Homo sapiens: one gene and its partners. The protein of the gene in region 1 purifies or fractionates together with the protein of each later gene. This does not show direct contact. Each region holds a gene or a part of one and is shown in the gene's direction. Other genes may lie near its edges. The genes, in order: DUSP23, MTCH2, ADD2 and SUGP1.

Region 1 (6,631 bases):
CATATTACTGCATAATAAATTACCCAAAATTTGATGGCTTAAAAGAATAAATATTTATTATCTCACAGTTTCTGTAGGTAAGGAATTCAGGAGAGGCTTAGCTGGGTTGTTCTGGCTCAGGGAATCCATGAGGCTATAATCAAGATGTTGGGTAAATCATCTAAAGTCTTCATGGGCTGGAGAATTCACTGCAACAGTAGTGAGCCACTGACTTGATGGTGGGTAGGAGGCTTCAGTTCCTCACCACATGGATCTCTCCACACAGCTGCTTGAGAGTTCTCACAACATGGCAGCTGGCTTCTTCCCAAAGCTTCCCATGGCAGGCCTTCTTTCCAAGACAGAACAAGGCAAAAATTAAGTATTTCATGATGCAGCCTAGGAAGTCACACACCACCAGTTACACAATATCTTACTGGTTGCAAAAATCAGCCCTATCAATGTGGAAAAGCACTACACAGGCATGAAATGGCTCATTGGGTACCATCTTGGAAGCTAGCTGCCATACCATTTCTTCTTAGGTTCAGTTTCCAGATTATCAGATCTTAGGTGTGAAGTGTGTTTAGACATTAAAAAATCAGAACACTGAGGACACTGAGAATTCTGACTGTAGTCCAAGGGCCACAGGAACCTGAACCCAAGCAATCCTTTGCATTGGTGGAACACAGGGACCTACCTGGAGGAAGAAATTCTCTGACTCCAATTGCACCCCTAATTGCCACTAGCATCAAGCCAAACAGGGGACTGGGGCCTCAATATGAACAAGAACTAAGTCAAAACATTCTTATCAGCTGGAAAAAGGGAAGCTGAGATGCCCTAAAAAATGTTCTGTTAAGCCTTATTTTTTACTTTTAAGTTCAGGGGTACATGTGAAGAATGTGCAGGTTTGTTACATACGTAAAAGTGTGCCATGGTGGTTTGCTGCACAGATCATCCCATCACCTAGGTTTTAAGCCCAGCATCCATTAGCTATTCTTCCTGATGTTCTCCCTCCCCAAGTCCCCACCCCAGACAGGCCCCAGCATTTGTTGTTCCCCATCCCCATGTGTCCATGTGTTCTCATCATTCAGCTCCCACTTGTAAGTAAGAATATGCAGTGTTTGGTTTTCTGTTCCTGTGTTAGTTTGCTGAGAATAATGGCTTCCAGTTCCATCCATGTCCCTGCAAGGGAATGATCTCATTGCTTTTTATGGCTGTATCATATTCCATGGTGTATATGTACCACATTTTCTTTATCACTGATGGACATTTAGGTTGATTCCATGTCTTTGCTATTGCGAATGTGCTGCAATAAGCATATGGTGCATGTATCTTTATAAAAGAATGACTTGTATTCCTTTGGGTATATACCCAGTAATGGGATTGCTGGGTCTGCTGAGCTTTTCATTGGACAGTAGACAAAATGGAAAGAAAAATCCCTCTCTTCATAAGACATTTCTGGTAGTTCCAATTCAAGCTTATCTTTCCCCCACTGACTTCTTTTGCACTTGTTTTTACTGCACAATTAGCTTTTTAATATGTATTATCTGATTGTCTTTGATGAGCAATTTAGTACTTTATTATATGTCCTGAGAATAATTACATCAGAGTCTAAATCCCCCGCAAGGATGTTGTAAATTCCTTGAAGTCAGGGAAATTTCTTAAGCTTACTACTCAGCCCACCATCAGTGTCAATAGATTGTTCTCCAGGAACACGGCCCCTCCAAAGCACTCAAATACACAAGCCATCACACACATGCACACTACAAGAGCAGTGCTCTATAAAGAACAAGCTTTATTTGTCCCATTTCACAAAAATAGTAATTAGACATAGCCAAGATCATACTGACACAGCCATTCTTTATTTAAAAGCACAGTCAAGTAAAAAATACACTTCAAAGAGATACTACCCAATACTCAACACAGTCCTCAAACTTGTGCATTTAAAAAGAATTACAAATACACATTGCCACATGGTCCGACAGACTCACATTCACTCCTAGAAATGTACCTTCACGGTCTTGCCAATGCATTCTTCTTATTAATTTCCCATTCATTTGTTTACTTAACATTTTGAGCCCTGTGGCTCAGGCTCCATATTAGATGTGTGGAATTCAAAAACGGAACAACGCATTCTTGCCTCCTCTGCAAACAAGTATCCTCAATCCAATGACATTACTATACTGAGAAGACATATTTATACAAGGTGAGATGGGAGAAAAAAAAAAAGCCTAAATCTTCCTGAGGGTCAGGTAACTCTGTACAGAGGAGAGAATAAAAGAAGGTCAGTATCATGTATGTGGGCAGACAAGAAGGTGGTTAGTTGCAGAAGTCCTGTTAATTGCAGAAGTCTGAGCCAGGAAACCATCAGAGAGGGTTTTTCCTTACAGTTTGAGGCCCCTTGGGCCCAAGACAAAACATCATATGGCACCCTTGACATATGGCACCCTTGACAAAGCTTAAGGCAGGGACCCTGGGCCCTTTCCACTCTGGGTCTGCTGGAAGGGAAGGGCAGAGCTTCCTAAAAAGGGAGCCAACTGGCCTCTCCACATGGAGGCCCTAATGGTTTGATGGATGCACTGCTAGCCCTGCAGAAACCCACAAGAGGGAGAGAATCATTGGTAGGGGACTCAGGGAAGAGGAAGATCTCGGTCTCCCAAAAAAATTTTCTCTTTCTGGAGAATATGGGCTTCGAGCTGGATATCAAGGAGGCAAAGAAGGAGCACATAGGAGGGTAGGGAGTGAAGTGGAAACTTCCCTGGTGAGTAGGGGAAGCAAAGAAAGGAGAACAAGGCAAAGGGACTAAGAAAAGATTAACTTACAAGAACAAATGCTAGAGTCTTGTCTCCAGAGGTAGTGCAACCAGAAATCCTGAAGAGCAGTTGAATTGAGAAGAGAAGTGGGAGGTCAGGGGGTTGGGGGAAGAGGTGACTGGTGGCTGAGAGGCCATGGCTGGGAAAGAGAGAAAGGAATAAACTGGGGAGGGCTGGTAACCTTGATAGGAATTTATGTAGGAAATGAGAGTGCAAACAGGAAGGGCTTAATGAGGGCTGTGATTGTCTGGAAGGAGAAAAAGGGGAGATTTGGCACCTCCTGGAACCTGGGGAAAGTAATTGTCTGGGTAAATGGTAAGTGTATTTCCCACAGGGTCAGAGCAGGCTTTGATCTTTAGGAGAAGACAAATTGCTTTCCATCTTGCTGAAGCCAAAGGCTTAAATGGTCAGACGTGTGTCATAGGTGGGTGCAAAGGGAAGGAAATATAATACATCCTCATGGCCAAGTGCCCTGGGCTTGGATCACTGTGTCCTTGGCCAAGTTAACCAACTTCTTTAAGCTTCCAATGATTCATGTACAAAAAAAGATACAAAAATACCTTTCACATGTGGTTCTTCCAGAAAGCGCTTGGCACAGGGCCTGGTACATAAACAAATTCAATAAGGGTTAACTATTTTCATAATTACAGTTAGTCTGCATCGCTAGAAGCACATTATTCAAATGAGGATATGGACTGGTCAGATGACAGTGGAAACGGTGTTCAGATCTAGGGGCCCCCACCTAGTAAGAACAACACTAATCAACTCTAGCCTGCCCAGGGGACAGTGACCCAGAGAACTAGGAAACCTTGAAAAATGAAGAAATATGAAATACTAATAAAAATTAAGAAAACCCACAAGCGTTTAACCCAGATAATATTTGGGGACATGAGGGGGTTATGTGAAGAGAAAACAATGTTCCATTTAACTTTAGGAAATGGCGATATTATTAAAGATTTTGGAGGCATTAGTCATCATCCTTTGGTCAAGTTTATTAACCTCTCCAGTGCCTCTGTTTTTTCATCCATAAAATGGGATTCACTAGATCACCTATCTTATAAGATTACTGTGGCAATTAAATGAGTCAGTATGTGCTAAGTGCTTAGAAGACTATCTAGCACATAATAAATGCTCAATAAGTCCTGAGGAGCAACTGGATTGACAGGAGAAGTTGGTGCTGGTTATTATTATTACTATAATTATTACCCTGGGTAAGTTTTTAATAGTTCCAGCAATGAAAAAATGAGAATAGCCTCCTTGCAGCAGTAATTCCCTCTTACTGGAACAGTTCAAAAAGTCGCTGATAACGACCAGTCAATCATTAGAGAGGAGACTCCTCGTCCTGGGAGAAAGCCGATTTGTCATCTCTTAAACCCCAGGGCATCCAGCGTGAAGGAGGTAGAACTAGGCCGGCCCGCGAGGAGGCAGGGGCAGGCGCCAGTGACGCAATGACTGCAACATGCCGCCAGGGTGCAGCAGAGCCCGACCCCGGGTTGTTCCATCCGCAGCAAACAATTCCTAACTCGCTCCAGGTCTTCCTTCTTAGCTGAGTGGGTTGAACCCCGTGGAAGTAACCCCCCGCCCATTATGATGATCCAGCCAATCACCGCGTGATCTGCTCGGACGGGGCGGGATCGCGGCGCTTCCCTCGGTCGCTCAGAGACTGGGTTCCGCGTTCCAGCCCCGCCCCAGGTTCTGGGCCAATCCCCGCGGCTGGGCAGAGCGACCCGAGGGCGGCGCCCTGCAGACCACGTGGCCCGGGAGGCGCCGAGGCCAGGTAGGTGGTGAGTTACTTGGCTCGGAGCGGGCGAGGGGACGCGTGGGCGGAGCGGGGCTGGCCAGCCTCGGCCCCCATGACCCGCTGTCCTGTGCCCTTTCCCAGCGATGGGCGTGCAGCCCCCCAACTTCTCCTGGGTGCTTCCGGGCCGGCTGGCGGGACTGGCGCTGCCGCGGCTCCCCGCCCACTACCAGTTCCTGTTGGACCTGGGCGTGCGGCACCTGGTGTCCCTGACGGAGCGCGGGCCCCCTCACAGCGACAGCTGCCCCGGCCTCACCCTGCACCGCCTGCGCATCCCCGACTTCTGCCCGCCGGCCCCCGACCAGATCGACCGCTTCGTGCAGATCGTGGACGAGGCCAACGCACGGGGAGAGGTCAGCGGGCGGGGTCAGCGCAGGGAGGGAGGGGCCTGGAAGGTCAGCGGGGGACACGGGCGGAGCTGGGGAGACCGGGCCTGGGATAACTTAACTGGGCTCGGGGAGGCAGACAGTAGGGCCGGGAGACTGGGAAGCCAGTGCGGGGGAGGGAAGCGCTAAACGGAAGGAACTAAAGAGAGGGCGAAGCAGTGCGAACTGGGCTTGAGGAGAGGCAGTGAAAACCAGCTAATACTGTGAGTTGTGAAGGAGAAGGGTGTGGACAGACACCTGGGAGAGGTGGGGGTTGAAGTCAGGTGGAGGCTGTTTACCATTTTCTAGAGTAAAGCTGTCCAAATATAATGGAACCTAAGTGGCTCCATGTAATGTTAATTTTTCTAGCAACGGCATTCTTAAAAAGCAGGGAAGCAGATAAAATTAACTTTGGTGATCTTAATGAGATATTTTCATTCTTTTTTCTACTACCTCTTCATACCCTGTTGCGTTTTTCACACTACATCTCAGTTTGGACTAGCCACATTTCGAGTACAGTAGCCACAGTAGCCGTGGCTACTGTCTTCTGTATTGAACACCACAGGTGGAGGGCTGTGTAGAGGTGGACAGCTCTTGAACCAGCCAGTGCAGAGGCCTCCTAGCCACCTAGTGCAGGGACAGCCCTCCCTGACTTTGCTGCAGAGCCCTGGACCTGGCACAGAAGAAGGAGCTGTGGGGAGAACCAAGTGAGGGGCAGGAAACAGTTGTGGGTGGGGGAGTTGAGTGGCACCCATCGAGCCCCCTCTTCGTAGGCTGTGGGAGTGCACTGTGCTCTGGGCTTTGGCCGCACTGGCACCATGCTGGCCTGTTACCTGGTGAAGGAGCGGGGCTTGGCTGCAGGAGATGCCATTGCTGAAATCCGACGACTACGACCCGGCTCCATCGAGACCTATGAGCAGGAGAAAGCAGTCTTCCAGTTCTACCAGCGAACGAAATAAGGGGCCTTAGTACCCTTCTACCAGGCCCTCACTCCCCTTCCCCATGTTGTCGATGGGGCCAGAGATGAAGGGAAGTGGACTAAAGTATTAAACCCTCTAGCTCCCATTGGCTGAAGACACTGAAGTAGCCCACCCCTGCAGGCAGGTCCTGATTGAAGGGGAGGCTTGTACTGCTTTGTTGAATAAATGAGTTTTACGAACCAGGGCACGTTGCATGGTACTTTATAAAGCATTCCCACACATTAACTTACTTCAGCCTCACTGTAGCCCTGTGATACAGGAAAGACAGATGGGCCATCTCTGTTCTTTGGATGAGGTGGGCAAAGCTCAGAGAGGCCCATCTTCAACACTTCTAGAAAGTGGAAGGATGGGCCAGAACAGCAACACACGTCTTCAATCCCTTGAAGATGCTGAAATGCTATGTATCTGTTCCCTGACAATATTTGATGTGTTTTCTGGGGGAGCTAGTCAATGAAAAGGATTCAGGTCCAGAATAGCCTGGCCTCCTGGCATTCCCAGGTCTCTGATGCTCACAGGCCAGGAGGCCCCTCCGTGTAGGCCCACCTGCTGCACACGTGTCACCCTTGTTTATCTGGGGGTAGAGACAGCCTGGATGTCACACTCACAGATAACCACCATCTCCACCTCCACAGGGCTGGTCACCTCTTACCAACCTCAGGTGCTGCTCAGCTCATCTGGGCTCTCTGGCTCATTCTGCTG
Region 2 (7,023 bases), on another chromosome or scaffold:
TGGCTAACACGGTGAAACCGTCTCTACTAAAAAATACAAAGAAAAAAAATTAGCCGGGCATGATGGCGGGTGCCTGTAGTCCCAGCTACTTGGGAGGCTGAGGCAGGAGAATGGCGTGAACCCGGGAGGCGGAGCTTGCAGTGAACCGAGTTCGCGCCACTGCACTCCAGCGTGGGTGACAGAGCAAGACTGTCCTAAAAAAAAAAAAAAAATGCAAAAGCCAATGGTAGACCTGCTTACATTTGCAATCCCAGAACCTAAATGCAAAGATTATAATTTAATTTTCTTTATTACTTCCTTACAGAGCCCTAGAGTAGAAAGATAAACTAGGAAAAACACAGCAGCTCTAAGATACTGCACAGTTACTGGGTTGTAGTCACAAAACAAAATTGTTCTCTTCTCCCAAAAATGTGAGTAGAGACTAAATGGAGCCTGTCATTTATCTAGAATGATGTCAGACTCTCCAAAATCACTTACCAATAAGAGAGCAACTTAATAATCTCAATAAAGGCCTCATATTTTTTATTTCAGCTTAATGACTTTGTTGGTGACCTTTCCTGTTTCTTTATTTTTTTCTCTTACCTGTAAAATTGAGAAAACAACAGAAGCCTGCTTTGCAGAGAAATTTTGAGAAGTAACTATAATAGAACATTGAGATCCATGAGTGAAAAGTATGATAAAATGACAATGAATGAGATCTTTCACATCCCATTCAAACTCTTCTTGACTCCAGCCAGGGCAGGAGGGCTGTGTCATTCACTTTCTTATCCTATACCACGATATCCACCCACATTCCTTCTCACAGGCATTTGAGTGTCATTTGTTTAGATTTCAGAAGTGTGTGTTGATTGTTTCTAGACAACTCGAGAGATGATCGCTCGTTCTGCTGCTACCCTCATCACACATCCCTTCCATGGTATGTTTGCAGTTGACAACTGACCTTTCTTTTATAACCTGATCTCTCCTGACCACTTAGATAGGTTGACGTGGGAGTTGACTAAAATGCCTTGCCTGCATGTTTTTGTTTGCTTGCTTGTTTTGGCTTTTATCCAATTTATCCAGATAGCAAAATGTCTTTAGGTGGAAAATCTTTTTTTTTCCCAGGGCTATCAAAATCTATCTTAACATAGTTTTTTTTTGTTTGTTTGTTTTTTGTTTTTGAGACGGAGTTTCACTCTTGTTGCCCAGGCTGGAGTGCAATGGCACAATCTTGGCTCACTGCAACCTCAGCCTTCCGGGTTCAAGCAGTACTCCTGTCTCAGCCTCCTAAGGAGCTGGGATTACAGGTGCATGCCACCACGCCTGGATAATTTTTGTATTTTTAGTAGAGATGGGGCTTCATCATATTGGTCAGGCTAGTCTTGAACTCCTGACCTCAGGTGATCCGCCCACCTCGGCCTCTCAAAGTGCTGGGATTACAGGTGTGAGCCACCGCACCTGGCCTTAACATAGTTGTAAACATCTTTTCTCTATATTCCACAGTGATCACTCTGAGATCTATGGTACAGTTCATTGGCAGAGAATCCAAGTACTGGTAAGTATTTTTGTTTTCACATACTCAAGGAGATCTTTTGAAGCCAAAGTACTAGAATAATACTACTTTGTATTTTTATGATACCCTTACAATTTGTAGAACAAATTCGTATCTGATGTCATTTGATCTGCACAAAAAACAATAAAATGGGAGAAAATATACCCAGGCAGGTTTAGTAGCCTACGTAGGATTTCAGAGTAAGTTGCAGAGCCCCTGACTCCATATGACTATACCCCTAGGTAGTTAATATTTTCACTTCTATCTCCAAATTTAGCTATCTTTGCAGAGTGAGAGAGTGCTAGAAAAGTGTGAGGGAAGGAGGTCGTGGATTTGACCTTGTCCAATGTGATAATTGAAATTATTTTGTTTATAGCTCCAAAAGAATCTTAATATATTTTACCTTTTCTTCTTGTGTACGTAGTGGACTTTGTGATTCCATAATAACCATCTATCGGGAAGAGGGCATTCTAGGATTTTTCGCGTGAGTAAATGTTGATTAGTGTGTAATTTTTGCATGAGTGGGAAACGTTTTCTGAAAGTAAGAATAGTGAGTCTTTGTTTAATCCTTGGGGAAAACGTACTCCCTGGGCTTACCTCACGTTACATTCTATTTAGGCCCCTTATTTTTTTTTCTTTTTTCTCTGCAGAAAGGCATATTTAGGCCCCATATGACTAGAATTATCTTGTAAAGATCCCAAACCTTTACTTCTAGATACTTAAAACATTTGAGGCCGGGCGTGGTGGCTCACGCCTGTAATCCCAGCACTTTGAGAGGCCAAGGCGGTTGGATCACCTGAGGTCAGGAGTTCAAGACCAGCCTGGCCAACATGGTAAAACCCCACCTCTAGGTGTGGTGGTGTGTGCCTGTAATCCCAGCTACTCGGGAGGCTGAGGCAGGAGAATTGCATGAACCCGGGAGGTGGAAGTTGCAGTGAGCTGAGATTGCACCACTGTACTCCAGCCCGGGTGACAGAGTGAGACTCCGTCTCAAAAAAATAATAATAATTAATAAATAAATAAGGAATTTCTTTTTTTAACAAAGGACTTAATTCCAAGTTTCTACCCTTGTAGTAAACTCCCAATTCTATATAGATAATAAAATGAGAAAAATTAAATGTTGAAAAATGGGGAAATCATCTTAACTTGTATTTTCCTTACCGTAAAAGAGTAAGTTTTTGCAAGGCTTGAATTTACTTTGGAAGAACTTAGACTACTACCCTCATTCTTCTATGAGGAAAAATTTTGCATCATTACCGAAATGGTGTTTTTTGTTTTTTTTTTTTTAATTTTCAGAGTATCTCCCCATACGGATTTTGAATATCATAAATACCCTGTGAGATAGGCAGGACAGCTATAATTAGTATCACTTTAGAGATTAAAAAACATTGATGCTCTGAGAGTTTCATCTGCTGCCTGTCACATCGCTGCTGAGTGCTGGAGCTGGCATTTGAAGCTGGTCTTCAATCCGTGGGGAAATGCTCTTCCCACTATTCCATGCTGCCTCACCTAGGTCACCCAGACCCTAGAAATGTGGTTTTTGATGCCTCTCATCTGTATCTGTACTTGGGACCATTCTTGCTTTGTAATTTTTCTCGTCTTTTGCTCTGCCAAATATGAATATCAGATAGCTTAGCAAAATCATTTTTTTAAGCTAGTCAAAGCAAAACAATATTTAAGTCTCTTCTGCAAAGCACCTCGCAAATCTTTTGCCTCCCTGCTTACAGTTATGAATAGTAAGGTGAGCCACTGAGGGTATAGCCGACCTGCATTTTAAACATAGGAACAAAAGTCACTGGAGATCAGCTTCAAGTACAGCTGTGTTAACGAGAATGAACTAGGTATGCGGGCTGGATTCTGGTGTTTGATTCCTTTTTTACTTCCCTAGAATGTTTTGTGACCTCTAATTATTTGACAAACATTTGTACTGAAGAGCCTGTCATGTTACTGATCACATTTTTTGGTTCTTATTTTTATTGTTTCTTCATGTAGGGGTCTTGTTCCTCGCCTTCTAGGTGACATCCTTTCTTTGTGGCTGTGTAACTCACTGGCCTACCTCGTCAATACCTATGCACTGGACAGTGGGGTAGGTTGTGACCTTCGTGAGATGTGCTCACCTTGGCTTTAATCTGGCAGCTAGATTAGCTTTTAAAGTAAGATGGGCCGGGCGAGGTGGCTCACACCTGTAATCCCAGCACTTTGGGAGGCCAATGTGGGCGGATCACCTGAGATCAAGAGTTCGAGACCAGCCTGGCCAACATGGTGAAACCTCGTCTCTACTAAAAATACAGAAAAAATTAGCTGGGCGTGGTGGTGCGTGCCTATAGTCCCAGCTACTTGGGAGGCTGAGGCAGGGGAATTGCTTGAACCCAGGAGGCGGAGGTTGCAGTGAGCCAAGATCGCGCCACTGCATTCCAGCCTGGGTGACAGAAGGAGACTCCATTTCAAAAAATAAATAATAAATAAATAAACAAGATGACAGTTTGCTACATGCCAGACTGAACAATTATATAGCTAAAAATTATCAGTCAAATTTTCAAATGCTAATGAAATGAGCATACTGTTCACTGTAGAACGATACTGTTTACTGTAGAACGATACACGTTAAAAGTCCGTAAGATGTGACAGAGTATACCCAAGAGACTTAGCCCTGTGTTACTTCAGGGCTTTAAAGAGATCACTTCTTTACTGATACTTAACTTGAGAGAACCTGGGAAAGCAGGACATCTTTATGGTGTATCGGGGGCTTTTCATCTAATCTGGACTTAAGAGGGTGCCTGTATTGGGCTTTCTAGAAACCTCAGCCTTTTGAGAATCAGTCTTATCTAGAAGTTGTCTTTCTTATCTCAGCAGTTGTGGGGCCTCTTGTATGTCGGCAGCTCCATAGCATGATGATAAATTGAACACATCACAGGGTATATGACTAAATCCATGTTGTAAACCTCTTGAGTACAGAGAGGGATTTTCTTCAACGCATCTGGTAGAAAGCTAGCTGTGTAAAACAAAGGTAGTGAATTGTCCCTTAGATATACTATAAATGTGGTTTTCCAGGGACTGTATTTCTAGGATGTGTGAAAAGGTTATCAATCTCATTTTCTTTAGTATTTGAAATCCTTTTACATTCGTCCCTAAAGCATTTTAGTATAATATGAATTTGTCTGTTAATATTGAATCAGGTTGATCATTTTGACCACTGCCTTATTATTCTAATAATCAGTGTTTTATGGTTTTGTCCTCAAAATTAGTTTTAGACAGGTGTGGTGGCTCATGCTGTAATCCCAACACTTTGGGAGGCTGAAGTGGGAGGGTCACTTGAGCCCAGGAGGTCAAGGTTGTGAGATCACAGCTCACTGCACCTCCAGCCTGGGCAACAAGAGAGATGAGATCCTGTCTCAAAAAAAAAAAAAAAATTAATTTTCAAGCTGTCAAACTGATAATTTAGAGATAGACTATATTGACATGGAGAGCAAGGCACAGTAGCTCCAGCCTATGATTCCAGCGACTCAGGAGGCTTAGGTGGGAGGTTTGCCTGAAGCCAGGAGTTTGAAACCAGCCTAGGCAACATAGCAAGACACCGTCTCTTAGCTGGGCATAGTGGCTTATGCCTATAATCTCAGCACTTTGAGAGGTCAAGGTGGGAGGATCTCTTGAGCCCAGGAGTTTGAGACCAGCCTGGGCAAACATAGGGAGACCCTTATCTCAAAAAAAAAAAGACACCATTTCTTAAAAAATATTTTGAAATTAGCTGGGCGTGGTGATGTGTGCTTCAGGAGGTCACTGCACTTCAGCCTGGGTGACAGAGTGAGGCACTGTCTGAAAGAAAAAAAGAAAAGAAAAGAAAAGGAAAAAAGAATATATTGATGTGTTGTAGTGTTGTAGGTAATTAATTTAAGGCTCTTTTCCTATTTTAGGTTTCTACCATGAATGAAATGAAGAGTTATTCTCAAGCTGTCACAGGAGTGAGTTTTTTAAAATCCTTTTAACCTTCTAGGAATAGTTGTGTTTTGTTTTGTTTTCCTTTTAAATCTGGCTTGTGTCATCACTGCTTTAAGATAACCAGATGTCTCACTGGGACATCTCCCTGAAATTTGTTATATTTGTCAAAGGTAAGAATAACTCAGTTTTCGGCCAGGCGCCATGGCTCATGCCTGTAATCCTAGCACTTTGGGAAGGTGAGGTGGGCGGATCACCTGAGGTCAGGAGTTCGAGACCAGCCTGGCCAACATGATGAATCCCCGTCTCTACTAAAAATACTAACATTAGCCGAGCGTGGTGGTGCATGCCTGTAATCCCAGCTACTCGGGAGGCTGAGGCAGGAGAATCACTGGAACCTGGGAGATGGAGGCTGCAGTGAGCTGAGATCACGCCACTGCACTTCGGCCTGGGCGACAGAGTGAGACTCCATCTCAAAAAAAAAGAGAGAATAACTCAGTTTTCGAAGGAACCACAGACTCACATGTGAAAATAAAGAGAGTAAGGCAGAACCCCTGCCTCACATCCTGCATGGTTTGGTACTGCTTAGCTTTCATAAGGGGCGTGCCTTTCCTCCGAAATAATATTGTTCAGGCCAGACATGGTGGCTCACACCTGTAAACCCAGCACTTCGGGAGGCCAAGGAAGGAGGATCACTTGAGGCCAAGAGTTCAAGACCAGCCTGGGCAACTGAGCAAGACCCCATTTCTACAAAAGTGAAAAAAAAAAAAAAAAGCTGGGGCAGGCGCGGTGGCTCACTCCTGTAATCCCAGCACTTTGGGAGGCTGAGGTCGGGAGTTCGACACCACCTTGGCCAATTTGGAGAAATCTCATCTCTACTAAAACTACAAAATTAGCTGGGCATGGTGGTGCATGCCCGTAATCCCAGCTACTTGGGAGGCTGAGGCAGGAGAATCGCTTGAACCCCAGGAGGCGGAGGTTGCAGGAGAATCGCTTGAACCCAGGAGGCGGAGGTTGCAGTGAGCCAATATCACACCATTACACTCCAGCGTGGGCAACAAGAGGGAAACTCCATCTCAAAAAAAAAAAAAGTAGTTGGGTATGGTGGCGTGCGCCTATAGTCCCAGCTACTCAGGATCAGAGAATTCTTCTGGCCTTTTGTTAAAATGTTGGATGCAGTGGTGTGCTAAGAGGAAGAAGCATCTCCAGGCTCAAAACTGTAACTGTTGTCTTTCCAGGGTACCGATGAAGCGAGACAAGTGTTAGAGTGTCTCACCGCAGTGGCACTAGGCCTTTAAGGTAAAGGAAAGGAGAATAAAGACTAGGAATGATCTAATAACAGCTGCCTTGTTTCCATTTTACAGTTTTTTGCGAGTATGTTGACCTATCCCTTTGTGCTTGTCTCCAATCTTATGGCTGTCAACAACTGTGGGTAAGCACTTTGTATTTCTTATTCTAGTAGGTGGTTGACTGTATGCTGACAGGCGGAGCAGCCTTGTAGAAATTTAGGAAAGATGAATGATCAGTATCAATCTCTGATTGGTATTTTTTTAAAAAGG
Region 3 (7,807 bases), on another chromosome or scaffold:
AGGAAGGCCTCCCCCAGAGGGACTTACATGTTATCAGGGCTCAACATGAAGAGCTCTATCCACAGCTCTCCAGGTCTGGACCTAACATGAGGGTGGGAACTGGAGTCTGGGGCTCTCTTGTCTCTGGAACCACTCTGGTTATTTCCTGGTGTGGCTGGGGTTACACTGTCTGGCTGTCTCAATAGGTAATAAGACCATAAGTGCTTTCACTTGGCGTCCCATTTTGTCTACATGACAACCTTGGCCAGGTGGAGGATGTAGTAGTTTTCTGGGGCTCCCATAACAAAGCATCCCAGATGGTAATGGTAAACCACAGAAATGTGTGGTCTTACCATTCTAGAGGCTCAAAGTCTGAGATCAAAGTGTGGGCAGGTATGATTTCTTCTTGGAGTGTATGTAGATGGCCACCTTCTTGCTGTGTCCTCATATGGTCATCCCTTTATGCCAGTTTGTGTCCAAATTTCTTATAAGGACCTCAGTCATACTGGATTAAGGCCCACATATATGACATCATTTTACCTTAATTACTTTTTTAAAGGATTTAGCTCCAAATACAGTCACATTGTGGAGCACTGGGGGCTAGGACTTCAACACATAAATTTGAGGGGGATGAGATTCAGCCCATAACAGAGAGCAAGTGCTGTCACCCTCACTTTATAGCTGGGTAAGGGAGAATAAGGGGTCAGGGTCTTTCCTAAGTCCACACATTCCCTGGGACTGAGATTGGAGCCCTAGGCCCTGGACTCCCAATTCACTTCTGTTTCCAGAGCAGCATCAGCCATAGAGGTGAACTTTCATTTATTGGGTATCTTCAGAACATCTAGACTTACAACTTATCAGTGGTCTTCCTTTGAAAGCACTGTCTTCCTTCCCTTGCCCCATCTTAAAGTGGGTTCCCCTAAATGTAGATTACGATTTGAGTGTAAGTTGGGAAGCAAGCCCGGGAGGCACCTGTAAGGGAGTGGGAAAGTGATATAGGGAAGAAAAGCCCATAAAAGATGCGTGAGTGAGCAGGTAGGTTACTGCTGTGGGCAGCTGGGGCTCAATCCTGCTGAGGCTCTCTGGGAGACAATGGAGAACACTGAGGTATTCTCCCAACTCTCAGGGATGAGGGAGCCAGGCTGTTTATCCACAAACTCCTAATGGTCATTGGTTGAGGGCTGATCCCAGGGGTGTTGATTTCTCCAGCATTTCCAGCATGCCCTAGAAAAGGCCATTGATAAGCATGCCTGGGCCTATAGAGTGCTAAGCCCCCGTATTAGTTATCTATTGCTGTGTAACAAATTAATGCAAACTAAGCAACTTAAAACAACACATTTATTATCTCATGGTTTCTGTGGCCAGGAGTTGAGTCTCGGTATGACTTAACTGAGTCCTCTGCTTCAGTGTCTCTCACAAGGCAGAAATCAAGGTGTCAGCCAGGGCTGGGTTCTCAGTGGAAGGCTTAACTGGGGGAGGATCAGCCTCTAAACTTATGTGATGGTTAGTGGGATTCATTTCCTCTAGGACTTTTTTGGACTGAAGTTCTCAGTTTCCAGCTGGCTATTAGCTGGATGTCACCCTCAGTTCCTTGCCATGTAGATCTTCCAAACATGGCTACTAATGAAAGCATGCAGGTCAAGACGCCAACTGAGACAGTCTGCTAGCAAGACAAAGAATCTTATGTAATGTAATCACGGAAGTGAACATCCCATTATCTTTGCCTTATCCTGTCGGTTAGAAGTGAGCCACAGTCGTGCCAGCACCTAAGGAGAGGGTAATACACAGGGCAATGGATACCAGGAGATGGGGCTCACTGTTGCACTGCCAGCTTCTCTCTCTACTAGTTATTCTTGGCCAGAAACATTTTTGTCAGAAGACTTGGAAGATGAGAAATTTTACTGCAAATCAGTCAGAGAGTCTAATTTTAAACTATCTGGCCATGGAGGGTTAGCCAGCTGTGATTTTTCCCCGGTCTGACATGGGGGTCTCTTGTGTTTTTCTGGCCCCAGTTAAGGGCCAGGCATCTTGGGCTTGTTGCAGTGGGAGCTCTGAAGTCTCCTGGTCTCCCATTGACAGTTGGAGCCAACTACAGTTGTGGTTCCTTTTCCTGGATTTTGAAGTGAATTTGAAATTGAGAATTTCTGGAACTTCAATTAAAATTTCATATAGGCTATGAATATGGGAATTAATGAAGTCTTATTTCCTCTCTGACATTTGGACAATTCCTAAAGTCCCAGGATGGCACCACCTTCTCAGTATGCAGTATCAGATAGACCCTGGGAGAGGCCGGACATATATATATAAAAATATATGTAATATATATAATATATATTGTGTATATGTAATATATATAATATATACATATATAAACATAAATATATATATGTATCTCCTGTGATGACTAGGGGAGCAGAATCATTTTTTTTTTTGCCGGGGGGAAGGAGAATGTATTAGTCTTATCAGCCTTTCAGTGTCTTGTACCAGCTCTGCTTTAAAAAGTTTATTTTTGGCCAGGCGTGGTGGCTCACGCCTGTAATCCCAGCACTTTGGGAGGCTGAGACGGGCAGATCACCTGAGGTCAGGAGTTCCAGACCAGCCTGGCCAACATGGTGAAAACCCATATCTACTAAAAATACAAAAATTAGCTGGGTGTGGTGGTGCGTGCCTGTAATCCCGGCTACTCGGGAGGCTGAGGCAGGAGAATCGCTTAAACCTGGGGAGAGGAAGTTGCAGTGAGCTGAGATCATGCCACTGCACTCCAGCCTGGGGGGCAGCATGAGACTCTGTCTCAAAAGAAAAAAAAAAAGTTTATTGTCCCCTCTGGGAGGCCATGCAGTGTAGTGGTTAGGGCCCACAAACTCTGGAGCCACAGCACTTGAGTTTGATTCATTGCTCAGCCACCCACTAGCTGTGTGACCTAGGGCAAGCGACTTAACATCCCTGTGCCTCAGTCTCTTCATCTATAAAATGGGGATGATAATAGTACCACCCTCACAGAGTTTTTGCAAGGATTATGTGAAAATGCATGTAAAGCTCTCAGAACAGTGCCAGGAACCAACAAGGGTTTGCTAGGATTCATGTGAGAAAACAAAATAACACACTAGGAAGAGAAATTTTGGGGGATGGAAATGACTGGGGTGACTTATGAAACCTGCTATTTCTAACAAAAATTCTCCATTCTTTTTGGGGGTTCTATTAAGATATAGAGCCCACCTTACCTGTGACTTCTGAGCTCTGGAGAAGGGGTTCCCTGTTTCTCAGATCTCATCACCCATTAGCACCAAAAGAGCTATGGCTGCCAGGAATGACTCAATAAACATAACACGTCCTGGCTTCTTTGACCAGACAGACCTAGGTCCTGGGGTGGGGAGGGGAAGGGGTTTCATCTTGTGTGGCTGAGCCTGTTGTAATTCTTCTAGCAGGTTTTGACAGGAGAATGGGGAGAAGTCTTGTGGACTCGGTGATTCTGAATGAGAATGAGTGAGAAGCTCTGAGTGTGGAAGGAGGGTGCAGGGACCAGGTATGCATGTATGTTTCTTGGAAGGGGGGCTGAAGCAGAAAGACAAGTTTATCCTGGCATCTAGGGTTGTCGTTAGCATTTTCTTTTCTAAATCAGTAGTAGCTCTCAGAGTGGTGTTTCTAAAGTGTTAGTGTGCAAAGGAATCACTAGGGCTGCTTGTTAAAATTACCAATCCTGAGCCTACCTCCAGAGATTCTGGTTCCACAGCAGCACTGTGGTGGGGGCCAGTGACTTTTGTGGGGGTGTCTGAGGGCTGTGGTGCCCCAGAACCTGGAAGGGCAGAGGGGCCATGATCAGGTTTCAGATCAGTGGCCAGAGGCTTTTCTGGAAGCTGTACATTTTCACAAGCACATTTTCAAAAGCCCTTGGAGAGGATGTTGATTGAGGGGAGTTTTGGGGACTGGTGGAGATTATGGGGGTGAAAAGTCCAGAGCTATCTCTTAACACCCCTACTCTCTGAGGGCCAGGCCTTGAAAGTATTGGAAATGGGAGGTGCCTTAGGTACACTGTCATTTTACAGAGGAAGACAACGAGGCCCAGAGAGGTTAAGTGGGTTGATTAAGGTCTCACAGCTAGTTAAGAGCAGCTCTGAGACGGCAACCGAAGTATTCTGGTTCCCTATCCAGTTCCCCACTCACTACACACCTGTTCCTTCTGGGGCGGGAGACCTGAGGAAGGAAAGGAGTGAGAGGAGAATGTAGTGAGAGTTGGAGAGCGTTGGGTCCACAGCCCCCAAGGGCAGGGCCACAACAAAAATGTTGTCCTGGTTGAAAAGGAGTGAGAATCAGGACAGGGAGAATTTTGGTTTGGAATTCAGTCAAACAATTGCTATTAAAATCACTAATAGAATTATCTTCCGAAGGCTAGCTGTCCTTTCCAGACGAAAAGAAATATTCCAAGTCTAAGACTTTTGCTTTCTTCCTTCCAGGGAGAATACATTCCCCCAAGGGAGCTCTGTTTCAGATTTTCTCCCTAGTAACAGACTCCCCTGCTTAGCTCTGGCCATCCCGGGTAGTGAGTGGTGCGGGGCGGGGGTGGAAGGGGGCTGGAAGCCTGGCTAGGGGGGTCTGCGGCGGCGCGGGCGGGGGCGCTGCGGGGAGGAGGGGGGCGCTGCGGGGCGGTAGTGGGGGTGCTGCGGGGCGAGGCCGCTGCGGGGCGGTGGGGGGCGCTGCGGGCGGGGGCACTGCAGCACCGCGGCCCTCGGGCGGCCGGCGCGGCCTGCTGGAGGGGGCGCTGTGGGCACCGCGCAGCGGCCTTTTGTCAGCGCGCAGGGCCAGGAGAGCTCTCATTTCCTCCCAGCCTCGTGCGGGAAATGGCTTTAATTCTGACGGCAGGGCTGTGAGGGACTAGCGGGAACCCGAGCCTTTTGTCAAGGAACTGCGGCGTCGGTGGCCAGTCATCCCCGCCGCCGCGGAGCCGCTGCACTGCTGGGGGATCTCCCAGCAGCTCTGACGAGCGCGGGCTGCAGCATGGGCAGAAAACGCTGCCCTGCAGATTAGCTGGGTGGATTTTTTAAGCGCACCCCACCCCCCAAACCCATAAAATAACAAAACCAACCCGCAGTGGCCGACCGGAGATAGCTAAGATGCCGCGCAGGAGGTAAGGGTCTGGGGAGCGGGCCTGGTGGGCTGCCTGGGGTCGCTGGTCTCCTGGCGCGGAGACCCTGGCATCCCTCGGCCGGGCGGGAGCCGCTTGGCCCAGGTGGGGCGCGTCTGTTGCCGAGCGCGTCGGTGCTGCAGCCCTGGCCGGCAGCGGTGTGTTTTGCGCCTAAAGGTTTCTGGTGATGATGTAGCATCCGAGGCTCTTAGGAAATCGGGGCTGCAAGCACTGGCCCCTGCTTGGGGATGGTGGGACCCTCGCCCGGAGCGTAACGCCTGACAGGTGGGGCTTTCTTTTGGGTCCGAATGGAGGGGCGGCAAGCCTCGCCTCGCCTAGCCGGGCGGGGCCGCTCCTCCCCTCCCCTCCCTCCCCTCCCCTCTCTTTCCTTCCCGCTCGGCCGCCGCCCTCCGGGGTAGCGGTGCGAGGCGGGCTTGGCGGGGCTGGGCGCGTCCCCCGGGGCCTCGCGATCGCTGGCTGCGCGGCGCTCAGCCGCAGTGGCCGGCCGAGCAGGTGCGGCGTCGGCAGCCGCCTACATTGAGATCGGGGCAACCGGCACGTGAGCGGGCCTCGTGGGTTTTGATTTTATGCGGCTCCACCACTTTGGAGGGAAAAATCCCACTGTACCCGAGGGGGTCTTGCCAGTCTGTTTCTTCCATCTTCCCTCTCCTCTCCCTGCCTCCCCTCCCTTTCTGCAGCCGGGGCGGAGGCCATCCCCGGTCCCGGAGGCGGGAGTCGGTGTCTGCTTATTTTTAAATCACACCACAGCCTACCTGGTGTTGGGGGGAAGGGAGGGAGGGGCAGACTGCTTTAGGATGCAGATCAGGCTCTCGGGTCTGGCCTATTGTCTTGCCTTTTCTCTTCCTTCCTTTTCTCACCCCTAATCTCCATCTCTTGCCCAAAACTAAAAATAGAAAATAGGAAATAGAAATAGAAAATAAAAAAGCAAGCTCCAGCCCACACCCTATCAAATTCTTTAAAAAACTGTCATTTATCTCTGACACATGATTAATACCCATCTGTTTCCTTACACCCACTCTTCCCTCTTGCTGTTTGTCGTCTAAGATTCAACTGACTCAGATGAGCTTTATCGATAATAGAAATCAAATCTCAGTTTCCTAAATGCACATTTCGTGCTTCCCGAGTAACCCAAAAGGAGTGGTTGGTCTGGCATCCTGGCAGAAGCAAAGGGATTGGAGAGGGTGCAAGCAACTGCTTTCATGTCTAGTTTGTGGATCTAGCTGGGATTCCTGAGATGTTTAACTTGTGCAGTGAGGGGTGTTCTCATTAATGGCATTAGAAAATTATGTTCCGTTTTAAGAGAAAAATAGCAAGTCAGCATTTGAAGTAAAAGTGTTTTAAATGAATCTGACCAAAGAAGAGAACTATGACGTTTCAGACTTGCAAATAATATCTCCATTAGCATATGAATAATATATGTTAGAGACTTAAAAGGGGGGTTTAGACCATTTAATATTTTTACTTTATAAGGTTCTACTTTAATTGTGTAATGTGATCAAACTTTTCTCTGTAGAGACTTTTCTCCTATAGATCAGGATCTTGCCCAGCCTTTCTTCCCTACTCCTCCCTGCATAGGGCACAAGTAAAAGCAAAGTTTTCATTATTGGTATGATGTCAACACATTTTGAAAAACCACTAAAGATAAATTATTCTTTGATCCAAAATCCATAAGAATTTTGTAGTAAGCCCTATGTTCTTTCTTGTCCACCAAATTGCCTAGCCTTATTAGAAATATGCTTGTCATATACACAATGTACAACAATGCCTGACATGATATGCTGTGGTTTCTAGGCTTGGATTGAATTTGTTTTAAATATTAGTATAGTGTTGGAATTAGCAAATCTCAGCTATTCTTAAGGTTAACAGTTGAGCAAATGTGTTTGCTGGCAGTGGGTTTAGTGTTAAGATTTTAAATATATATAAAAAAGACTAGTAGATATATTTATTTATTACCACCTCTTCCACAAGGGATTTAAGATAGTTTACAGGGATTCATAAATATGGCAAGGCAGCCTAACTTGGAAGTAGTTGGGAAAGAAAAAAGGACACTAAGGGTGGAGTCATAAAATGGTCTTAAGCGTGAGGCTGATACAAAAACATGAGCATGAGACCTTCTACAATGGCTACGGGCAGGAAACAAAAACAGCTCTAAACTTTCTTGCAGCATAAGCAAAAAAGAAATTGACGAACCCATGGCTTATATGTTTTATTTATTTGTTAAACTCATTCACACACTTCTTCACTCAACAAACATTCAGTGAGGACTTACTACGTGCCAGGTTCTGTAAGACGTACTGGGAACAAAGGGATAAAGCAGATAGACGTGGTCTGTGTCTAATGGGCGCTTAAAGACAAATGCAAGAAATGGACACTCATCAAGAAATCTCTCAAATGAATATATAATTACAAATTGTGATAACAGCTATGTGGGAAAAACACAAAACACAAAACATTATATGGCCAGAACATAAAAACACAACAATTCTTTTTTATTTTTTATGTTTTATATTTTTTTGAGACACAATCTCATTCTGTTGCCCAGGCTGGAGCGCAGTGGCATGATCTCGGCTCACTGCAACCTCCACCTCCTGGCTTCAAGTGATTCTCACGCCTCAGCCTCCCGAATAGCTGGGACTACAGGTGCGTGTCACCACGCCCGGCTAATTTTTGCATTTTTAGTAGAGACGG
Region 4 (7,225 bases), on another chromosome or scaffold:
TGTGGCTCAGTGGAAGACCCTTCAAGATTCAAAGTTCCATTTGACAGAGCAAAGGCACTTCGCAAGGAGAAGGGTTTAAATTATGGGTCCAAAAGCCAAGTGGTAAAGCGAGCAATTTGCAGCATGACTGCTTCTCCTAGACAGGGCTGAGTGGGCAAAATACGACAGTACACACAGTGACTATTAGCCACTGCCAGAAACAGGCTGAACAGCCCTGGGAGACAAGGGAAGGCAGGTGGTGGGAGTTGTTCATGGAGAGAAAGGAGAGTTTTAGAACCAGCACATCCACTGGAGATGCTGGGCCACCAGACCCCTCCCAGTCAATAAAGTCTGGTGCCTCATTTGATCTCAGCCTCATCATGACCCTGGAGAGACCCTGATACCATCTGCCAGTCCCCGACAGCTTAGGCACTCCTTGCCATCAACCTGACCCCCCGAGTGGTTCTCCAGGCTCCCTGCCCCACCCATTCAGGCCTCTGCTCAAATGTCACTCCCACAAATAGAGACTCTCTCACTACCTCTGCCAAAAATAGCTCCAAGTCAACTCCATCTCTTCTCCCTGGTTCAGTTCTCAAGGTTCTTCCATCACTGCCTAACCTCTTACTATATGCTTATCATTTGTCTTCCTCATGAAAACCTAGGCTTACGTGGGCAGAAACTGTTTTAGCCATTGCTGATCCCCCGGCACCAAAAATAGGGCTTGGCATCCTGCATGAGCTGAACAAGTATCTGTTGAATGAATCAAAGGAAAAAAAACTTCACCAAAACAATAATGATGTATCATCTTGGCATGTAACCTGGTTATCACTGAGCTGGAGTTTGAGCCTAGTTTTGTCAATAACTTGTTGTGCAGCCTTGGGCAAATCACTTTACCTCTCTGGGCCCATAATGCCTCCCTTTTGAAACAAGGCAGTTGATCAAGTGAGGACTAAAGTTGCCTTCCACGCTGGGCACAATGGCTCAAGCCTGTAGTTCCAGCACTTTGGGAGGCTGAGGCAGGTGGATGGCTTGAGCTCAGGAGTTCAAGCCCTTGTCTTTACAAAAAACACAAAAATTAGCTGGGTGTGGTGGTGCGTACCTGTGGTCCCAACTACTCAGGAGGCTGAGATGGGAGGACTGCTTGAGCCCAGGAGGTCAAGGCTGCAGTGAGCTGAGATCACGCCAGTGCACCCCAGCCGGGGTGATGGAGCGAGACCCTGTCTCAAAATAAATAAATAAATAAATAAATAAAACTGGCCAGATGTGGTGACTCACACCTATAATCCTAGCACTTTGGGAGGACAAGATGGGCGGATCACTTGAGGTCAGGAGTTCGAAACCAGCCTGACCAAATGGTGAAACTCTGTCTCTACTAAAAATACAAAAATTAGCCAGATGATGTGGTGCAAGCCTGTAATCCCAGCTACTCGGGAGGCTGAGGCAAGAGAATTGCTTGAACCCACGAGACGGAAGTTGCAGTGAGCCAAGACCGCGCCACTGCACTCCAGCCTGGTGACAAAGCGAGAATCTGTCTCAAAAAAAAAAGAAAAAAAATTATCTGGGGCTGGGCGCAGTGGCTCATGCCTGTAATCTCAGCACTTTGGGAGGCCGAGGGGAGTGGATCACAAGGTCAGGAGTTCAAGACCAGCCTGGCCAATACTGTGAACCCGTCTCTACTAAAAATACAAAAATTAGCTGGGTGTGGTGGCGCACACCTGTAGTCCCAGCTACTCGGGAGGCTGAGGCAGGAGAATCACTTGAACCCGGGAGACGGAGGTTGCAGTGGGCTGAGATCCTGCCATTGCGCTACAGCCCCGGCAACAAGAGCGAAACTCCGTCTCAAAATAAACAAATAAATAAAATAAAATAAAATAAAGTCTCCTTCCAACTTTTCAGTCTGTGAAACAAAGATTTGATCTATTCCTCAAGGCAAGTTGTTACTAGCTGAGGGTGGGCTTGGATTTACCTCAGATTAATGAGTTTTTAAAATCTGAGTTGATTCTTTTCAATAATTTTCTATTCAAGCAGGACAGAGCTGGGTAAAAGGTAAAAGGGAGGCAGGGGTCTGACAGGATCACAGCGCTGCTGTGAGAAAAAAACGACTCCACAGCCTGAAATTTTATTATTTTTTCCTTATTATCTTTTTTTTCTGAGACAGGGTTTCACTGTCACCAAGGCTGGAGTGAAGTGGCGTGATCACTGCTCACTGCAGCCACGACCTCCCGGGGCTTAGCTGATCCTCCCACCTCAGCCTCTGGAGTAGATGGGACTACAGGCCCGCGTCAGTACGCCCAGCTAGTTTTTGTATTTTTTGTAGAGACGGGATCTCACTGTGTTGCCCAGGCTGGTCTCAAACTCCTGGGGTCTAGTAATCTGTCTGCCTCCGCCTCCCAAAATACTGGGATTACAGACATAAGCCACTGAGCCTGGCCCTAGAAAGTTTATTAAAGGGGCCGGGCGCGGTGGCTCAAGCCTGTAATCCCAGCACTGTGGGAGGCCGAGGTGGGCAGATCATGAGGTCAGGAGATGGAGACCACCCTGGCTAACACGGTGAAACCCCATCTCTACTAAAAAATACAAAAAATTAGGCAGGCGTGGTGGCGGGCGCCTGTAGTCTCAGCTACTCAGGAGGCTGAGGCAGGAGAATGGCCTGAACCCGGGAGGCGGAACTTGCAGTGAGCCAAGATGGCACCACTGCACTCCAGCCTGGGTGACAGAGCAAGACTCCGTCTCAAAAAAAAAAAAAAAAAGAAAGTTTACTAAAGGGCAGAATGACAGCCACTCTCCCGCATTCTTTGAGGCACCAAGATGACACAAATCAAGTTGGGTCAGGGGAGGGACTCACTCTGACGGAAGAGGATGGACTGATGGATGGTAGAAGTCACCAGTGGATGGAGAAAAAGCAGGAGCTGCTTTTAGTTCCCCTAATACTGAAACTGAACAGCGGGGCCTGGAATCCAGAACCCCTGTTTCTCCTCCTCATAGGCCTCAAATGACCAACTCCAGACTCCGGGTCTCAGCTTCCCTCGTACGACACCAGGCATTATTGATGGGGGCACAAGACCCTCCAAAAACCACGATTACCAAACTTCTGTGTCCAAGGAGAATCATGCCCTTCCAGGTTCCTGAGAGACCAGACTTCAGATTCCCGGGAGAATGCCAGGGGTCTCGCCTTCGCCAACCCCTACCCCAAGTCACTTTAGGTGGAAGCGTTTGGGGCTGATGCTCCGGAAGCTGAACCAGGAGGAGCTAATAGCTTCAGGACCCTGTGATGTCCCCATCGCCACCAACAGGTGGGATCCTCCTGAAAACCAGACGATTTGCGGATCCTGTTGCTCCCAATAACAGGCAACTTTCAGAGTACGGTGACGGGGCTCCTGGAGCCCTGTCACCAGAAACGGGAAATAAGGCGTGGGGGGCGAGGCTTTCGTGTCCCTTGAGAGGCTGGTGGCTTTGGGGTCCGGCAGAGGCGGGTGGGGGTCCTGCGGCTTTGACGGAGGTCGCGCCCCCAGGTCGCCGAGGAGCGGCCCCCCACCCGCCGCGGTCGCGACCCGTCAGCCCAGATCTTGCAAGGAGCCCGCGACTCCTCCCTCGCGGCCCGGCCCGCGCTCACCGCCTTCTCCAGGTGGCTGCGCGCCTGCTCGCTGTTCTTGGTGTGGTGATAGAGAACGGAGCCCAGCTGCAGGTGTGTACGGGCCTCGATGCGCTGCGGCGGCTTGAAGGGGAACACGGCCTGCAGGCAGTGCACGCACAGGCGGATTTTGGGCGGGCTGGAAGTGCGGAAGTGCTCAGCGAAGCCCAGAAGCGCCAGGTACCACGAGTCGGCCGCCTCGGCCTGCGCAGCCTGGGCCGCCGCCGCCTGGGCCGCTGCCGCCGCCTGAGCCGCCATTTTGGCCTCCACAACAACAAGCCGCCGCCACAGGGAGGCGGAAGCAGGCGCGCGAGACGGGGCCGGGCTCTCCTCGCGGCTTCCGCGAGATCTGCCGCCCAAAGCATCCTGGAACATGTAGTTTGTATTTGGGATGACTGCCGCTCCGGGAAGGTGTAAAAGGGCGACGCCGTTTGGTTATCGTGACTGGGACTTAGGCATCGCTGATAGGCTGAGGCTTCCGTTTCTGGAGGTTAAAAAAAAAAAAACCCAGTCGTTCACGCAGTAATAGGGCGAGTCTGACCGAGGCGGACTACATCTCCCATCAGGCGATGCACACTATAACAGGGCCCCTTAAGGGGCGCCGGAGCATTGTGGGATTGGATGAGTCTCAAGATGGACAACCGGGATGTTGCAGGTAACAGCCCCCGCCTCCTCTCAGGCGGCCGCCTGGGTCCCTGGGGCTAGGTGTCTCCCCTGACTCCTCGGGTCCGTCCTGCTGCGACCCGTGGATCCCTCGCTTCAGCCCCGGGGCAGCCCACAGCGTCGGCTTCTGCACCTCTTGGTTTCTCGAGACCCCAGACCCAGGTTGCTGGCCGCCCCCGCTTGGTTTGCTGAGGACGCACGGATCTCCGTAGAGGCCGCCACCCGGCTCGGCCCTGCGTCCCGTTTCCGAAACAACCGCCTTCAGGGCTGCTCCAACCTCCGTTCCCCAATACGGCGACAACCTTGGGCTGTCCCTGCACCCCTCTTTTCGTCGCAGCTGGCCTCTGGCCTGTGTCCCGCTTTCTGGAAAAGCTGCTTTTCCGAAGTGCTTTGAGGCTCCCTTGACACACTTTCCCGCGTCTTTTGACCCTCACTTTGCTGCAAGCCTTGGCCTTTCTGCTTCCCCAGAATAGAATGCATTTACCCATCAGCAGATACTTAGGGCGTGCTCACTGTGTGCCAAGCAGTGTGCTGGGCGCTACGCATGCAGCGGTGACCGAAACAGGGCCCTGCCTTCCTGGAGGTTGCTTTCTACTGGGGTGTCAGTGCATTAATGAGAAAATATTTACAAAAACTTACGTATGATGTGAGGTTACGTATGATATGATCAGAGTGGAGGCTTCTGATATTGGGTAGTCAGGAAAGACCTTTTCTTTCTTTCTTTCTTTTTTTTTTTTTTTTTTTTTTTGAGACAGGGTCTCACTTTGTCGCCCAGGCTGTAGTGCAGTGGCTCACTGTGGCTCCCTGGGTTCAGGTGATCCTCCCACCTCAGCCTCCCTAGTAGCTGAGACCACAGATGCGCGCCACCACACAGCGAATTTGTGTGTTTTTTGTGTTGCCACGTTTCCCATGCAGGTCTGGAATTCCTAGGCTCAAGCGATCCTCCCATCTCAGCCTCTTAAAGTGCTGGGGTTACGTAAAGGTGTGAGCCACCACACCTGGCCCAGGGAAAGGCCTTTTCAAGCAGAGGACATTTGAGTTAAGACAATGAATGCCAGCTATGGGAATCCCTGGAGGGTGGAGCCTTCCACACAGAGGGGGGCCAGTAAATGCAGAGGCCCTGGTAGGATGGGCTTGTCCTTTTGAAGAATGTCAAGGATGAAGCAGAAGGGAGGGGAACCATCTGGCGGGGCCTTGAAAATGGCCTTTTAGAATTCTTTTTTTCTTTTTGTTGAAGCGGAGTTTCGCTCTGTCGCCCAGGCTGGAGTGCAGTGGCACGATGTCGGCTGACTGCAACCTCTACCTCCCGGGTTCAAGCCATTCTTCTGCCTCAGCCTCCTGAGTAGCTGGGATTACAGGCGCCGGCCACCGCACCTGGCCAGTGTTTTTGTGTATTTTTAGTAGAGACGGGGTATCACCATGTTGGCCAGGCTGGTCTCGATCTCCTGACCTCAAGTGATCTGCCTGCTTCAGCCTCCCAGGTGCTGGGATTACAGGTGTGAGTCACCATGCCCGGCTCAGACTTTTAAAATTTGGATTTTATTCTGAGTCCCATGGGGAACCTCTGAGGTGTCTTCCCTGTCTCCATACTATCACCCTAGTCTGAAGACATCATTGTCTGTTGCTTGGAGCCAGTGAGCCTCCCTGGTCTTGTTGCCTGTGGATTCTCTGGCCAGAATGATTACCTAGTAGCCAGGATGAAAATAAAACGACCCTGTGGATATTGGCTAGGTGTGGTGATCCATGCCTAAAATCTCAGCATTTTGGGAGGCTTAAATGGGAGGCTCCCTTGAGGACAGGAGTTCAAGATTAGCCTGGGGAACATAGCAAGAACCTGTCTCTACAAAAAATAAAAGAAAATAGCTAGGCCTGGTAGAGTGTGCCTGTAGTCCTAGCCACTCGGGTGGCTGAGGTGGGAGAATCTCTAGAGCCCAGGAGTTTGAGGATGCAGTGAGCTACGATCATGCAACTGCACTCCTGCCTGGGCAACTCAGCGAGACCCTGTCTCAAAAAAACAAAACAAAACAAAAAAAACGGCTGGGTGTGGTGGCTCACGCCTGTAATCCCAGCACTTTGGGAGGCTGAGGTGGGTGGATCACTTGAGGTCAGGAATTCGAGACCAGCCTGGCCAACATGGTGAAGCCCCATCTCTACTAAAAATATGAAAAAATTAGCCAGGCATGGCGGCAGATGCCTGTAGTCCCAGATACTCGGGAGGCTGAGGCAGGAGAATCGCTGGAACTCTGGAGGTGGAGATTGCAGTGAGCCAAGATCGCGCCATTGCACTCCAGCCTGGGGGAAAAGAGCAATACTTCATCTCAAAAAAAAAAAAAAAAAAAAAGAAGGCTGGGTTCGGTGGCTCACGCCTGTAATTCCAGCGCTTTGAGAGGCGTAAATTGGAGGTTCCCTTGAGGACGGGAGTTCGAGACCAGCCTGGACAACATGGCGAAATCCTAACTGTACTAAAAATATAAAAATTAGCCAGGTGTGGTGGCTCACGCCTGTAATCCCAGCTACTCAGGAGGCTGAGGCAGGAGAATCGCTTGAACCTGGGAGGTGGAGGTTGCAATGAGCCGAGGTGGTGCCACTGCATTCCATCTTGGCTGACAGAGTAACAGTTCGCCTCAAAAAAAAAAAAAAAAAAAAGCCACTGGGGCACGGTGCCTCATGCCTGTAAATCCCAGCACTTTGGGAGGCCAAGGTGGAAAGAATGTTTGAGACCAGCCTGGGCACTATAGCAAGACCTCATCTCTATGAAAAAATTTAAAAATTAGCCAAGTGAGGTGGTGCATGCCTGTAATCCAAGCTATTTGGGAGGCTGAGGTGGGAGGATTGCTTGAGCCGGGGAGGCGGAGGCTGCAGTGAGCTGAGATCACACCACTGCACTCCAGCCTGAGAAACAGAGCCAGACCCTGTCTCAAAAAAAGACCCAATGGATCTTGCATTCTTCAT

The links.
Region 2: the proteins of DUSP23 (region 1) and MTCH2 purify together in Homo sapiens (affinity purification with mass spectrometry, with the first as the bait; 2 studies listed by BioGRID). This does not show direct contact.
Region 3: the proteins of DUSP23 (region 1) and ADD2 purify together in Homo sapiens (affinity purification with mass spectrometry; 2 studies listed by BioGRID and IntAct, with this or other methods). This does not show direct contact.
Region 4: the proteins of DUSP23 (region 1) and SUGP1 purify together in Homo sapiens (affinity purification with mass spectrometry; 2 studies listed by BioGRID and IntAct, with this or other methods). This does not show direct contact.

Annotation. Positions count from the first base shown.
Region 1 is NC_000001.11:159,776,428-159,783,058, forward strand, and holds DUSP23 (dual specificity protein phosphatase 23), read left to right. Parts: upstream 1-4,534; 5' UTR 4,535-4,673; coding exon 4,674-4,940; intron 4,941-5,725; coding exon 5,726-5,911; 3' UTR 5,912-6,116; downstream 6,117-6,631. UniProt on the Homo sapiens protein: Protein phosphatase that mediates dephosphorylation of proteins phosphorylated on Tyr and Ser/Thr residues. In vitro, it can dephosphorylate p44-ERK1 (MAPK3) but not p54 SAPK-beta (MAPK10) in vitro. Able to enhance activation of JNK and p38 (MAPK14).
Region 2 is NC_000011.10:47,625,547-47,632,569, reverse strand, and holds part of MTCH2 (mitochondrial carrier homolog 2), read left to right. Parts: intron 1-858; coding exon 859-916; intron 917-1,482; coding exon 1,483-1,534; intron 1,535-1,955; coding exon 1,956-2,015; intron 2,016-3,523; coding exon 3,524-3,617; intron 3,618-5,442; coding exon 5,443-5,490; intron 5,491-6,828; coding exon 6,829-6,896; intron 6,897-7,023. UniProt on the Homo sapiens protein: Protein insertase that mediates insertion of transmembrane proteins into the mitochondrial outer membrane. Catalyzes insertion of proteins with alpha-helical transmembrane regions, such as signal-anchored, tail-anchored and multi-pass membrane proteins.
Region 3 is NC_000002.12:70,765,180-70,772,986, reverse strand, and holds the start of ADD2 (beta-adducin), read left to right. Parts: upstream 1-4,786; 5' UTR 4,787-5,087; coding exon of another isoform or gene 5,088-5,101; intron 5,102-5,271; exon of another isoform or gene 5,272-5,383; intron 5,384-7,807. UniProt on the Homo sapiens protein: Membrane-cytoskeleton-associated protein that promotes the assembly of the spectrin-actin network. Binds to the erythrocyte membrane receptor SLC2A1/GLUT1 and may therefore provide a link between the spectrin cytoskeleton to the plasma membrane.
Region 4 is NC_000019.10:19,317,503-19,324,727, reverse strand, and holds the start of SUGP1 (SURP and G-patch domain-containing protein 1), read left to right. Parts: upstream 1-4,218; 5' UTR 4,219-4,231; coding exon 4,232-4,265; intron 4,266-7,225. Other genes in the region: MAU2 chromatid cohesion factor homolog, read right to left, coding at 3,593-3,868.